Homo sapiens: one gene and its partner. The protein of the gene in region 2 purifies or fractionates together with the protein of the main gene of each other region. This does not show direct contact. Each region holds a gene or a part of one and is shown on either strand. Other genes may lie near its edges.

What was found. Proteins that work in one complex are often made in the same cells at the same time.
Region 1: the proteins of TBPL1 (region 2) and TAF1L purify together in Homo sapiens (affinity purification with mass spectrometry, with the first as the bait; one large-scale study listed by BioGRID). This does not show direct contact.

What each region holds. Positions count from the first base shown.
Region 1 is NC_000009.12:32,632,870-32,636,997, reverse strand, and holds the start of TAF1L (transcription initiation factor TFIID subunit 1-like), read left to right. Parts: upstream 1-1,328; 5' UTR 1,329-1,418; coding exon 1,419-4,128. UniProt on the Homo sapiens protein: May act as a functional substitute for TAF1/TAFII250 during male meiosis, when sex chromosomes are transcriptionally silenced.
Region 2 is NC_000006.12:133,984,224-133,987,577, reverse strand, and holds part of TBPL1 (TATA box-binding protein-like 1), read right to left. Parts: intron 3,203-3,354; coding exon 3,099-3,202; intron 3,002-3,098; coding exon 2,907-3,001; intron 618-2,906; coding exon 538-617; 3' UTR 1-537. UniProt on the Homo sapiens protein: Part of a specialized transcription system that mediates the transcription of most ribosomal proteins through the 5'-TCT-3' motif which is a core promoter element at these genes. Seems to also mediate the transcription of NF1. Does not bind the TATA box.

The sequences.
Region 1 (4,128 bases), on a different chromosome or scaffold from region 2:
CATTATACATTTATTAGAAATGAACAAAAATTAACAAATGACAATGCTAAGTGTTAGAATGGATGTGGAGAGGTGAGAACTTTTATACACTGCTGTTAGGTATGTAAAATGGTACAACTACTTTGGAGAACAATTTAGTAATAGCAAGTGTAGTTGAAAAAGCATATATTGTAAAATCTAGTAATTCCACTCCTAGATGTATACCCTGGAGAATGTGTCCTACATATGCTCAAGGAATCATATACATTATTTATAAGAGGAACAATTTGGGAACAATTTAAATGAACAAACATAGGAACATAGATAAATTGTAGCATAACCATACTGTAGAACACTATAGAGCTATAAAAATAGAATTGAATGCATCAACATAGTTGAATATCATAAACATAAATTTTATCCAGAAAACATTCTGGCTAAGAGTACATACAGTAAGGTCGGGTTTGGTGGCTCTTGCCTGTAATCTCAGCACTTTGGGAGGCCAAAGTGGGAGGATTGCTTGAGGCCAGGAGGAGTTTAAGACCAGCTTGGCTAACATAGTGAGATCCCATCTCTTAAAAAAAAGGAAGGGGGAAAAAAAAAACGAGTACACACAGTAAGATGCCTTTTATACAAAATTGTAAAGCATGACAATGCTATAGATTATTTGGAGAAGCATACATATGCAGTTCATGTATAAAGAGATTTACAGAGGCTGGGTGCAGTGGCTCACGCCTGTAATCCCAGCACTTTCGGAGACAGAGACGGGCTGACCATCTGAGGTCAGGAGTTTAAGACTAGCCTGGCCAATATGGTGAAATCTTGTCTCCACTAAAAATACAAAAAATTAGCCAGGCATGGTGGCTCATGCCTGTAATCCCAGCTACTGTGGAGGCTGAGGCAGGAATCTCTTGAACTCCTGAGGTGGAGGTTTCAGTGAGCCGAGATTGTGCCACTGCACGCCAGCCTGGGGCGACAGAGCAAGACTTTGTCTCAAAAACCAGCAAACAGGCTGGGCGCGGTGGCTTACGCCTGTAATCCCAGCACTTTGGGAGGCCGAGGCAGGCGGTTCACGAGGTCAGGAGATCGAGAGGCTAACATGGTGAAACCCCGTCTCTACTGAAAATACAAAAAAAAAAAAATTAGCCAGGCGTGGTGGCGAGCGCCTGTAGTCCCAGCTACTCAGGAGGCTGAGGCAGGAGAATGGCGTGAACCCAGAAGGCAGAGCTTGCAGTGAGCCAAGATCGCGCCACTGCACTCCAGCCTGGGCGACGTTGCGAGACTCCGTCTCAAAAAAAAAAAAAAAAAAAAGTTTTGCGGGTTTTTCCCCCCGCCCCTTTGCCCCCTCCCCCCGCCTTTATTCAGCTTCCGGTAGACGCTGGTAGGGTAAGGGAGCTAAGTAGATCACTTCCGGGCGACTGTTGTTTTATTTCCGGTTTATGCGACCCGGCTGCGATTTGCTGCTGAGGGCAGCAGCTACCGTCACTGCCGCCATCATGTCAGACTCGGACAGCGAGGAAGATTCATCTGGAGGTGGCCCATTTACTTTAGCGGGTATCCTTTTCGGCAACATCAGTGGAGCGGGGCAGCTGGAGGGGGAAAGCGTCTTGGATGATGAGTGTAAGAAGCACTTGGCAGGCTTGGGGGCTTTGGGGCTGGGCAGCCTAATCACTGAACTCACGGCAAATGAAGAATTGACTGGGACTGGCGGTGCCTTGGTAAATGATGAAGGGTGGATTAGGAGTACAGAAGATGCTGTAGACTATTCAGACATCAATGAGGTGGCAGAAGATGAAAGCCAAAGACACCAGCAGACGATGGGGAGCTTGCAGCCCCTTTACCACTCGGATTATGATGAAGATGACTATGATGCTGATTGTGAAGACATTGATTGCAAGTTGATGCCTCCTCCACCTCCACCCCCGGGACCAATGAAGAAGGATAAGGACCAAGATGCTATTACCTGTGTGTCTGAAAGTGGAGAAGACATCATCTTGCCCTCCATCATTGCCCCTTCCTTTTTGGCCTCAGAGAAAGTGGATTTCAGTAGTTACTCTGATTCAGAATCTGAGATGGGACCTCAGGAAGCAACACAGGCAGAATCTGAGGATGGAAAGCTGACCCTTCCATTGGCTGGGATTATGCAGCATGATGCCACCAAGCTGTTGCCAAGTGTCACCGAACTTTTTCCAGAATTTCGACCTGGAAAAGTGTTACGCTTCCTACATCTTTTTGGACCAGGGAAGAATGTCCCATCTGTTTGGCGGAGTGCTCGGAGAAAGAGGAAGAAGCATCGTGAGCTGATACAGGAAGAGCAGATCCAGGAGGTGGAATGCTCAGTAGAATCAGAAGTCAGCCAGAAGTCTTTGTGGAACTATGACTATGCTCCACCACCACCCCCAGAGCAGTGTCTCGCTGATGATGAAATCACGATGATGGTTCCTGTGGAGTCCAAATTTTCCCAATCAACTGGAGATGTAGATAAAGTGACAGATACCAAACCAAGAGTGGCTGAGTGGCGTTATGGGCCTGCCCGACTGTGGTATGATATGCTGGGTGTCTCCGAAGATGGCAGTGGGTTTGACTATGGCTTCAAACTGAGAAAGACACAACATGAACCTGTGATAAAATCTAGAATGATGGAGGAATTTAGGAAACTTGAGGAAAGCAATGGCACTGATCTTCTGGCTGACGAAAACTTCCTGATGGTGACACAGCTGCATTGGGAGGATTCTATCATCTGGGATGGGGAGGATATCAAACACAAAGGGACAAAACCTCAGGGTGCAAGCCTGGCAGGCTGGCTTCCTTCTATTAAGACTAGGAATGTAATGGCTTACAATGTTCAGCAAGGTTTTGCACCCACTCTGGATGATGACAAACCTTGGTACTCCATTTTTCCCATTGACAATGAGGATCTGGTGTATGGACGCTGGGAGGACAATATCATTTGGGATGCTCAGGCCATGCCCCGGCTGTTGGAACCTCCTGTTTTGGCACTTGATCCCAATGATGAGAACCTCATTTTGGAAATTCCTGATGAGAAGGAAGAGGCCACCTCTAACTCCCCCTCCAAGGAGAGTAAGAAGGAATCATCTCTGAAGAAGAGTCGAATTCTCTTGGGCAAAACAGGTGTCATCAGGGAGGAACCACAGCAGAACATGTCTCAGCCAGAAGTGAAAGATCCATGGAATCTCTCCAATGATGAGTATTATTTCCCCAAGCAACAGGGTCTTCGGGGCACCTTTGGAGGGAATATTATCCAGCATTCAATTCCTGCTATGGAATTATGGCAGCCCTTCTTTCCCACCCACATGGGGCCCATCAAAATCCGGCAGTTCCATCGCCCACCTCTGAAAAAGTACTCATTTGGTGCACTCTCTCAGCCAGGTCCCCATTCAGTCCAACCTTTGCTAAAGCACATCAAAAAAAAGGCCAAGATGAGAGAACAAGAGAGGCAAGCCTCAGGTGGTGGAGAGTTGTTTTTTATGCGCACACCTCAGGATCTCACAGGCAAAGATGGAGATCTTATTCTTGCAGAATATAGTGAGGAAAATGGACCCTTAATGATGCAGGTTGGCATGGCAACCAAGATAAAGAACTATTATAAACGGAAACCTGGCAAAGATCCTGGAGCACCAGATTGTAAATATGGGGAAACTGTTTACTGCCATACATCTCCTTTCTTGGGCTCTCTCCATCCTGGCCAATTACTGCAGGCACTTGAGAACAACCTTTTTCGTGCTCCAGTGTATCTTCATAAGATGCCAGAAACTGATTTTCTGATCATTCGGACAAGACAGGGTTACTATATTCGGGAATTAGTGGATATTTTTGTGGTTGGCCAGCAGTGTCCCTTGTTTGAAGTTCCTGGGCCTAACTCCAGAAGGGCCAATATGCATATTCGAGACTTTCTACAGGTTTTTATTTACCGCCTTTTCTGGAAGAGTAAAGATCGGCCACGGAGGATACGAATGGAAGATATAAAAAAAGCCTTTCCTTCCCATTCAGAAAGCAGCATCCGGAAGAGGCTAAAGCTCTGCGCTGACTTCAAACGCACAGGGATGGATTCAAACTGGTGGGTGCTTAAGTCTGATTTTCGTTTACCAACGGAAGAAGAGATCAGAGCTAAGGTGTCACCAGAGCAGT
Region 2 (3,354 bases):
CTTGCATAGATTTTAAAAAAAAGAAGTATGAATACAATTTTTGTTAAAATAGAAAATGGGGAATAAAAGTTATAGAATGAAGAGAGATCTTTTCCAAACTTTTATTTGTGCACATTCAATTGAAAAAGATAACTTTTACAGGTTCTTTGGTGCCCATATTCAGCATACAAAAATGTAAAAGACTATTCACAAATAAAACACATTAGCTCAAAATGGAAAAAAATAACAATGACGACAATAAAACAATCTAAGGTAGTGCACACTGTGACAGCTCTGCTTATGGGGACATGAGAATTACTGCGAAAATAAATAGAATGTCCTTTTGTAAAAGCAGCAATATCATGTCTTGTAAACTTCCTTTTATATTACAGCAAGGTTTGGAATAAAATCCAAAGGGACTGGAGCTTACACTGTAGCCGTGAATGAATAAAAGAGTCTATTTCCTCAATTATTGTTGGTCCAGTTTTCCTTTTGAGTCCAATGTGCAGCAGGTTTAAAAGGTGCTCAGTTAGAGATTCTAACCAATTAAGTGGTGAATTATAAAATTTCTTTCCTGCTTTCAAACACAAATGGGTAAATCTGTTCCACAGCAGTAGCAACAGCCTTTACATTGGGCCCTGTAATAAACACAATGGAGGAAGGAGTGAGAAGAGTTGGAAAAGGGAGCACTAGGAAAAACTGATTTTCCAGAATTAAAAATATTCAAGTGGTATAGAATATCAAGTTAACTGTTAAAAAAAAGAAAACTAGACATATAATTATACACATAGCCATAATAAGTAAAAGTAATACAGATTTTGTTCTGGGCAATTAAAGGACATATGAAACACAAAATGAGGTTATTCACTTTGTTTTAGGGCATACAAACTATCATGGACTAATATAAAAAGCACTGTAATATAATATGTACATGAAAGGAAGGAGTAACAAATGGGACTAAATAACAGCTATCCTTTAAGTCACTATCATCTGGCTTCTGGTTAGGCTACAACAGAGGCTCAGGGATATGGAGGAACACAGCAGAGTGAAACAAAGCTGCTACCAAAATGTTGGGAAACCAGAATGCTGGTTTAAAAATCCCCACAGATTTACCACCACTGGGTATCCACATATTTATTACCAATCTGGTCATTTCACCCTCAGAGCGTATACAAGTCAATAGAAAACAAAAAAAGCACAAGGCTACGAGGTGACCATGCATTATGCTAATTCTTGAACAACTTTATAAAAATGTAATCTTTCATTTAAATCGCTAAAAAGAAACATAAAAAAGGACAATGAAAACTATTCTCATAAAATTTTGAATAAAAATGGCTTCACCAATACACACTTAACCTCTTTTGAAAGACCCAGGAAACTAACAAATCCACCCACTGTAAACTCTCTGAAAGTCCTAACCACACATCCTATCTTGGTCAGGTCCTTCCTGACTCACTTTACCCCCACCTTGCTATGCTTTGTTCATGGGAACCAATTCAGTAACATTTCATAGGCTATTCCTGATCTAAGTAAATAATGCATACTGCTTAACCAGGTGAATTGTCTTCAGTTTGTTATTGTTTTGTTTAATATCTAGTAACTCAGTAAATACAGAGTTTTACATATGCATTGTTTTATTATATACTTAGTAGAGATTGTTCAATAGGCTTTGTGGCTTCTCAGACATCCATGCTCCAAAGTGTAGAAACAGAGAGCTGAAAGAAGGGAACAAACAGACTCGTCTCCTATCATCCCATATTTAAGATGCAGGTGGGATCTTGGGAATACGTTTTGAAAGTCCCCAAGGAAGATGGAAAAACCCATGGGATGAGTCAAAACTAAAGTTTATTTGTTGAGAGACTAAATTATTTTCCTCTGTGGATTGAAGAAAGAAAAAACAAAGCTCAAGGACATTAAAGACATTTTCTTTAATTCTTTTTTGCCTAAGGTTGGGCCTGACTCCCAAGCAATGCCTCTGTACAATTTATAATCATAGTACCATTAAAATGTCACACAGCATGCTAATGCTACTCTCTGACATGAATGCCTAGTTTTCTGAAACCACCCTTTCTCCAAATAAAGATTAAAAGATATAGCAAGACAAACATAACAAACAGGTACCAATTATATTTAATATTTTGCTTATGTAAAACCTCTGTGAAATTTATGAGTTTCTCATGAGAATTTTAAATGTAAGATATCATGAATTTACAAAAAAAAAATCATACTATGGATACATATACCAGAAAATATATGTGTGTATATATATATATATATATATATATATATATATATATATATTTTTTTTTTTTTTTTTTTTTTAGACAGAGTCTCACTCTGTTGCCAGTCTGGAGTGCAGTGGTGCGATCTCAGCTCGCTGCAACCTCCGCCTCCTGGGTTCAAATGATTCTCTTGCCTTAGCCTCCCGAATAGCTGGGACTACAGGCGTTCACCACCACGCCCAGCTAATATTTTGTATTTTTAGTAGAGACGGGGTTTCACCATGTTGGCCAGGATGGTCTTGATCTCTTGACCTTGTGATAAGCCCGCCTCAGCCTTCCAAGTGCTGGGCTTACAGGCATGAACCAATGCACCTGGCCTACCAGAATATTTTTAAAGCTCCAACTGGAAACTACTCAAATGCCCAATAAGAACGAATGATCTACATACAGCTACATAGAATATAATATAGATGAAACTCACTAAGATAATGCTGAGTGAAAAAAGACACAAAATAGTAAGTGTAACATTTATAAATAGTACAAAAGTAGGCAAAATGCATCTAGTGTTAAAAGTCAGGAGACTGGTTCCTCTAAAGGGCAGAAGTGACTGAAAGGAACAAATCACACATTATTTCTATCTTGGTATGAGCATCTTGTATCATTCAATCCATAATTGATAAGTGTGGTTTCAATATCATAGAATACCTGTTACTGTGATACTTCCTGTTGAAAAAATCTGTAATGTAGCTCTTAGAGATTTTATCCGATAGCACACAGCAGGATGAAGTTCAGGTTCGTAACTACACAAAATAAGCCACAATTAATATAAATATTTATACCCTGACTAGTAATTTCAAATTTGGTAATTTCTCAAGATAAATTGCTTCAAAGACTTACCTGGCATGAGGTCTATTGTTCTTTGTGAATTCTGGCAAACGGATTTCAAATGGCATGTTACACACTGCCAGAACGTTAACAACCTTAAAATCTGTAAATATTACCTTTAGGAGAGAAGTAAAATTCAATAAATTTATTTTGAAACAAACAAACAAAAAATCTGCTCATAATGGCAATCCTTAAAAACAAGAGCAAACAAGATAAAACAAAAACATTTTAAGTGTATGTTTAGTACTGTAAGTTGTGTAGCATGGAA